Linked DNA regions of Homo sapiens. The protein of the gene in region 2 interacts with the protein of the main gene of each other region in a biochemical or structural test. Each region holds a gene or a part of one and is shown on either strand. Other genes may lie near its edges.

The links.
Region 1: the proteins of CTBP2 (region 2) and ZFPM2 form a complex in vitro, tested with the Homo sapiens proteins (2 studies listed by BioGRID).

What each region holds. Positions count from the first base shown.
Region 1 is NC_000008.11:105,321,331-105,325,081, forward strand, and holds part of ZFPM2 (zinc finger protein ZFPM2), read left to right. Parts: intron 1-3,751. UniProt on the Homo sapiens protein: Transcription regulator that plays a central role in heart morphogenesis and development of coronary vessels from epicardium, by regulating genes that are essential during cardiogenesis.
Region 2 is NC_000010.11:124,992,836-124,996,586, forward strand, and holds part of CTBP2 (C-terminal-binding protein 2), read right to left. Parts: intron 1,849-3,751; coding exon 1,634-1,848; intron 1,151-1,633; coding exon 1,020-1,150; intron 495-1,019; coding exon 367-494; intron 1-366. UniProt on the Homo sapiens protein: Corepressor targeting diverse transcription regulators. Functions in brown adipose tissue (BAT) differentiation. Isoform 2 probably acts as a scaffold for specialized synapses.

The sequences.
Region 1 (3,751 bases), on a different chromosome or scaffold from region 2:
TATTACAAACAACACTGTTACTTTTGATGTTCTGGATCAAATATAAGTTTGGAGAATCTCAGAAAGCTATGCTCTGTGAAACAATAGCATTTCACGCCAGTAATAAAACTGCATTTTAAACTTGGAAATGTCCAGGATTAGAAAATAAAGCTTTGGCACTGCTGATAAAACATACCCAATTTGAAGCAACTATGACAAGCAAAAAGTCAGCTTATACCAGAAACTCTGAAGACAGTCAATTTAAAGGACAAAAAGGTTGTTGGGCACAGTTTTTTTTTTCTTTTACTGCATACAGTTCCCTGCTATCTAAAATTGTGATTTATGCAGTATTTTAATATTTTGCTTATTCTTTCCCCTTGGGTGCTCTCCGGGCAGCGATAAAAAGGCGACGCTGAAAGAGCACCATTAATTTGCTATGATGACTGGCCAGATAAGAGGAGATAATGGGAAAGATAAGCGGAGAAGATATACCATCAGAAACCCGATTATTACCATTAAAATTCCAGCCCAGCAATCTGCAGAAGCCTGATAATTCCTTCTCCGTTTCCACCACTTTGGATGATAAGGCAAAAAATAGTCACTCAGTGCTCCTTGATTAGACTGCCTGGATTTCCTGATAATACAGTGATAAATTATGTATTTTGCCCCCATGTTTTGTCCCAAAATTCAGATTTTTTTTTCCTATTCCAAGACTATATTTTCTGCCCTCCCCTCAGAAGCTTTCTCTCATAAGCTATTATTGTAATCCTGGTTTGATAAAAAGCCCTGATAGGACGGGAGGTGTTTGGTGTGGGAGCCATATCATGCTATCAGCCCATCTCCCCGCACAGCTGCTCGCTGTTGTTGTTTTTAGCCTTATCACCTCCTGCCAATATGCCAATAAATTGCCCAGATTGTTCTCCATTCTGGGGCTGCAGTGCAAAATTTATGACAGAAATGATGATTTTTTTCTTTTACCAATGCATCTCTTTATGATTAGTAAATGTGTTGTGTGTGCAGTTTTATTGTTATTTTCTTCTTCAAGCTGTTGTCTCTAGTAATGTGTTTACTGCCTTATATGTCCCCAACTCCAGTCACACTGAAGTGTATTGGCTATGGGTGCAGGAAGAGGTGGACATCACTTTTTTTTTTTTTTTTTGCAAATGAATGTCATTATCTGCTCTCTAGTAGTTAATATAGAGCTTGAAAAGGAGAAACTCAAGTAATTTATTTTTGTATAAGATTAGGAAAAGGCACTCTTCTTTATACCATAAAAGTAGAGTTTTCATAAAACTTTTAGATTGCTTGATCTTTTCAGAGCGTAGTGCATAAATGTTTGGTCTAGATCAGGTGCCAAATAATTTGTGGTGAAGTATAATGAAAGGGTGAATTAAGAGGCAGAATGTTTTCTTCTTGAAAAGTGAAGCAGATACTGGAAATTAGCATGCATGTTGAAAGTAAAATGTTCTGGTTAGAGAATAATCTTGTTAGCAGTTCGGTAGAGGGTCTTTCCCAGAAGTTGGAATCCATTCATATTGAATAATTACCATTTTGTTATTTGAGATGATATAACAATTTTAGGCCGTACGAATTCCTAACTTGCGCATTGGCATTTTAATGTTCTATGCTATTTTTATAAAGGGTAGGTTATAGTCAATATTTTATGCATAAAACAATTATTGTTTTAAAATAAGAATATTATATATTAAATTTATTATTTAATATTTGTCACATGAAAACCTCTAGTTGGATCATTTCTATAACCTTAAAATTATGTTATGCAAATAATTGAGTATGGCTATTTTTCATTGTTCTATGGGTCTTTTAAAAGTCTTTCTTCTATTGATATTCAATCTATAATTTTAGGGTTAATTATCTACTGTGTTGTCTTTGATATTTTTATTTTTAAAAATGTTTTGGGAATACTACCTATATTTGAAAACATTGATCATTGTTATACACAGTTAGAATGTCTTTTTTTTCTCCTGCCAAATATTAAGACAGGTTTTTGTTTTGAAACAAATAAGTTATTTTTTTTCTGAATTTTAGGGATAATTGAATATAATGCAAAATAATTCTTCTCTTTGGTCTGTAATACTTCTCATATTGGAGATTTTTATTTTCTACATTTTTGACTGAGCAACATTTCGGAAAACCTATTTTTACACGTGCCACAAATTAAAGGAACCTGTATTCTGTATAATAGTTGTTTTAGCAATAAAACAGATAGAATAGTACCTATTGCTTGTAAGATAGCATAAAAATAATTTCCTGATTTATGAATTTGAAATAATATCAATGCATAGATTTTTTCTGGAAAAATCTAGGAATAATTATTTAGTGGATTTAAAAACAGACAAATCTTAAGATGACCAATATAGTCATTTTGGTTTTTAAGAGTTAAAGACAACCTAAGAAAGTTTACCTGTAAAAGATCATTAGTCATGAAGTTAGGTTTTTTAAAGTTCAATGGAGTCAGCAATGTAAATATAAATGAACTAACATTTTTATCTCTAATTGCTTAAGAGTTTAGGGCTAAAACTTGGAGATATGACTTGAAATAAAAGAGTAGGTATGTTTTCCACTTCTGGTAACTTTCAAAGTAGTTCATTTGTAAAATTATGGAGTAAGAGGGACTATCAAGTTTAATATTATATATCTTAGTATTTCTTGGGTGAACACACAAGTTTGAATTTTCTATAAATTGCAGTTAGAGACCTTAAGAATAGTAAAATTGCATCAATTTGGTTGCTATGTGACTTGCCATATATTAAGTTGGTATTATTAAGTTAGGAAGGAAGACAATGCAATTAAGTGATTTGCTCCTGATTTTTATGTTCAGCCAATTTAAAATTTCATTATATGTTTAAGAGTTAATACAAAGATTTATACATTGCTTTGTTTGGGGGTAATCTGGGGATAAATTAAGATAGTCATTGATTATATCAATTGTCTAGCCTGTATCTATTAATATATCTATGTTTTGCCTATATCTATATGTATCCATATTATTATAGTAATGTCCATTAAGTTAACTTTGCATTACAGTTAAGGTAACTCATTTTTCTTGTTCATGAACTGTCCAAGGACTTTCTCATCCATGTTATTTCTGCTAGTTGAGGCCTTGCTATTCAAGAACTAATTAGCTCTTTTTTCAAATGATTTTTAAAAAAGAAACGAAAGTCTAATTAGCCATTTCACTATTAGTTGTTACCACTGGAAAAAGTTTTAAGAGGACAAGATTAAACCTAACACTCTAGCTAAAATGAAGGATTTGGGACTAGTGTATGGATTTCTAGTATCGATGTTTTTGTTCTTCCCCATAACCAGGACAGATCAACAATGGACTTCTCAGTTGCATTTTAATCAAACCCTATTTAAATATATAACTTTTCCTCAAAAGGTATTAAGTGAATAAACTAATTTTATTTATTCTACATTCTGTAATTTATTTTTACATTTCAAGAAAACACCTTCCCAGATGAACTTTCCTTGAAAATAACTTAATGTGTATTCAAGTTTTAAATAAAGTGATACCATTTAGAGAAAGTTTTTTGATGTTTGGCCAAATTGTGTGAAGAATATAACATTAGATTTGTATGGGAATAAGAAATATTTTTCAAAAGTAGCTTCCTTTCTTAAATGTAATCTTTGTTCACTAAAAAGTATGAGTGGATATGTTAACTTTGGAGTTCTTATCCTCCAAGTCATATTCCCTTGGATTCTTTGTTACCTTCCCAATTCCAAAGGACTAGTAGGATATTTCAGAGAA
Region 2 (3,751 bases):
ATCATATTATTTTTACAAATCACAGTAAGTTCAACATTACACCTGTAGCTGCTTATGTGGGGAAATAAGCATTTGTAAAAATGTAGAACATCCAAAGGCCCAAGTGCTTGAGCTCTTCAACACTGACCTTCAGCCTCTGTGTGCCCCCCGACCCCCGAGTTTATAATGTCTGGGACTAAAGGGAATGGTTCCCTCTGTGAAGTTTAGTTCAGGGCTTACGTAAATAAACAGGGCCCAACTCATATAAATTTGATGCTAAAAGTGAATTCTACCTGTCGAGAGCTGCCTGTAGCCAGCAGGACAGGAGCCGGCTGCACTGTGGAGCTGAGGCTGCCCTTGGCAGGCCAGAGGCACGGAGGGGCTCACCTGTGATGGCTCGGCGGATCTCGGTGGCAGCTGCCTCCCTCATCTCCAGTGACGCCTGCTCACTGTACCAGGCAGTGTGAGGAGTGCAGATGAGATTCGGGGCATCTTTCAACGGACCCTGAGCAAAGCTAGAAAAATGTAGAAAAAACAGAGTAAGCGGGAAATGTCGCATACGCTCCCTGCCCTCCTCAGCACAAGGGAGCTCTTGGCCATGTAGAAAAGTAGCTACATAGATAGCATGGATACAGGAACATCTGTGATGATATTTTATGAAGGCTGGGAATTTTTGAATGTAATTATCAAAGTTGTGTAAGAACCGTATAATTGGTAGATCAAAAAGCCCAATTCTATTGAAGGCTTGTCCTGCTGTAATCCAGGGCAGAGATGATGCCTGTCTGTCTGAAGACCAGAACCACTGCCACACCCCCACCAATTTTCTGCCTCTCCTTTCCCTGATGACCTCTGGGAAACTTCCAGCCCTTTTACAATTAGAATACAGCACAATCCTTAGAAGAACAGAGACTGTAAATGTCATCTCTGGAGTTTCCTGCCCAGGGACCTGTTTGGGAAAAGGGCCTCGAGTTCAAAGTGTGGGGGTCAGGTGTGGAGCTGGGCCCTGTGGGCTCCTGGTAGGCGGCTGGGGCAACACGCACCTGAAGGGCTCTGACTCATGCACGTCGAGGGCTGCCCCTCGTATCCTGCCCTCCTTGAGGGCTTGTGCTAAGGCTTTCTCGTCCACCAGGCCGCCACGGGCTGCGTTCACAAGGAATGCTCCCTGCCTCATCTGTGGAAGGAAAGAAAAGCCGGTTACAGGCACACTGGCATGGTGGAAGACTCTTGTACCAAGGTTTAAAGAAGAAAGCTGCAAGCTAGTTTTGTTGGTCTGGTGGTTTAATGTGTGTGCTGCAGTTTGAGGGAAGGGAGTGGGAAGTGTTGGTGACGGCTGGAAGCCAGGGCCGTTGCTGCTGATCCTGAGAGGAAGCAACACGGTGGAAAGGCTGGACTGTGCCGAGCTGCTGGCCTCTTTAAAGGTTCTGGGAAGCTTCTGAAGCTGGGTCCTGGCTAGCGCCTGTCCTTCTCTGCTTAGCCTGGCTCAGCCCGAGGAAGGGGCTTCACGTGGCTTGTCACTGGTTTGTTGCAGGGCCTCTTCCCTGCTCAACAGTGTATCCAGAAACCACCTCCGTTGCCCTCCGTGTCCCTCTTGTGCCCACAAGCAAGTGCTACCACCTTTCGACAGAAGCTTCCATGGCATCTATTTTCAAATTACCTGCTTTATGGTAAAGTCATTGATGAGGTGGTGGTTATGTTCGTTGAGATTGCAGTGCAAGGAGACGCAGTCGCTCTGATACAGCAAATCCTGCAGGGTGTAGACCCTCTGCACGCCCAGGGACCGCTCGATCCCATCCTGCAAGTAGGGGTCATAAAATATGACGCTGAATCCAAAGGCCTTGGCTCGAACTGCAACCGCCTGCCCCGTGCGACCTGTACAGAAACAGAGCGTCCAGGTGAGTGAGTCCACAGCCCGCGCCCCAGCGCTGCCACCTCCATTGCTTCTGAGCTGAGTCCGGGCTTGGCATCCCCGCTGGTAGCTGCTGCCAGAGAAACCGTGTGCCCAAAGCTTAGTGAGGCCTGAGGCGAGCACTGCCCGCGAGGGGCCACCATGGCCGGTGTAGGACAGGTGAGGACCGCAGTGCTTGCTGCTTATATTGGGTACAGCAGGATTTTTGTTAAAAACAAAACAAAACCCTTCCTTGTTATTGACATTTTCAAACACAGAGTGTTCTGACAAGCCCACATGCCCCTCCCATCACCACCCGTGTCCTCCGTTCCCACCCCTCTCCCCACTTCTTGTGTGCACTGCAGGCTTCTTAACATGAGCTTTGTGTTTGAAAAACTTGCTCTCAATGTCACAGGGAGTAATGTCCTGCCTCCTCATTGCTGGGCTCGCTCCTGCAAAGGGTGACATGAGCACAATGGCTCCCTGCAGGCTGGCCCGAGTGCAGACTGGCCACATGCTACTGTGTTCTGGGCGGGAGGCAGGGCACATGACCATCAGACCTGGACCTGTCCCACTGGTGGGGCCTCGCGCCCATCTGCATTATGCAGCCTGGGCCTCCCGCCAGCTATGTCACAGGATGAGGAGGTGTCTCCCACTCCCCAACGGCTGTCATTTCATAAACCCATGGGGTCCCCCTCGATAGCACCTCCAGCTTCCCAGAGCAGTTTTCAGCATTTTGAAAACAAAATGGTTAGTGTTGATGCTCGACTGGTTCTCTTGGAGATCACAGAAGGAATCTTTAAAGCCATGGCTCCAAGGTGCAGGCAGGAGAAGGACAAAGATGCGCATTTCCGAGCAGGCAGCCTGTGTTCCAGGGGTACCTCAATGCTGGATGGCTCCTCCTGCAGCAGCTCCATCTAACCGATGGCCTGGCTAGGACAACTGCCGTAGTTTAGAACAAAGGTTGAATAAGGCCAGTCTGATCAGGGACAGCTGCAGGACAACTAGTATAGCAAGGCACGAACCATCACGCCTCTCCTCCTCAGTGTCACCCTTTACAGCAGGCAGGACTGGACGGTGGCAGGGACGGAGTGAGAGATGGCTCTCTGACGCACTGGCAACATGAAACTGAGGACCCCAGCATGCAACTGCTGGGAGCTCACACTTCACAGGACCCCCGCCTGCCTTCCCCCGTTCCTGCAGCCTCCATCCCCCTCATGGCGTCTGTGCACGAACATGCTTCAATCAGTGGGGCTCACACTCTGCAGATCCAGGGCCTGGAGGGCCTGTGGAAAAGCAGCCCAGAGCACCAAGCCCAGATTTGAACCGTGCCGACGGCTATTTCTTTGTTTTTTTTTTTTTTTTTTTTAAAGTTCACAAACCCCTTGAACTTTATCCATGAGATTTTCTGATGACCCAATGACTTAATCCTGCTACTGACTTAATCAAAACCCAGTCCCTACAGAAGAGACCTGCTCCCCCGTCACAGCGCCCCCCCCGGCCCCCCATGCCGCTTATTTTAAAAGCGCAGCTCCCACAGGCTGCCTTTCCTTCAGTTTCTGTCCATGCCCCCAGCCCCAGGCTGCCCTCTCTTGGCGGCACCGTCCCACCCCGCCTGCTGCACTGAGCCCGCTGGGCCTGGGGGACTCTTGCTCAGTAGAACCCGAGGCCAGCAAAAGCTCTTAGCCCAGGATGGCTGCAGCAGCGACAGTCCTGAAGGCTACAGAGACACCTGGAAAGGGAACAAGGAGAGCACGACAGTCCCTGTGCTGAGGATCCAGGGTGGTGGCGGCAGGGGTTAGTGTACAGTCTCGAGAAAACAGGGCGGCGGCAGGGGGCTGCACTGACCTCTATACACCGAGAGGGTTTTTAAAGTTGAATGACAAG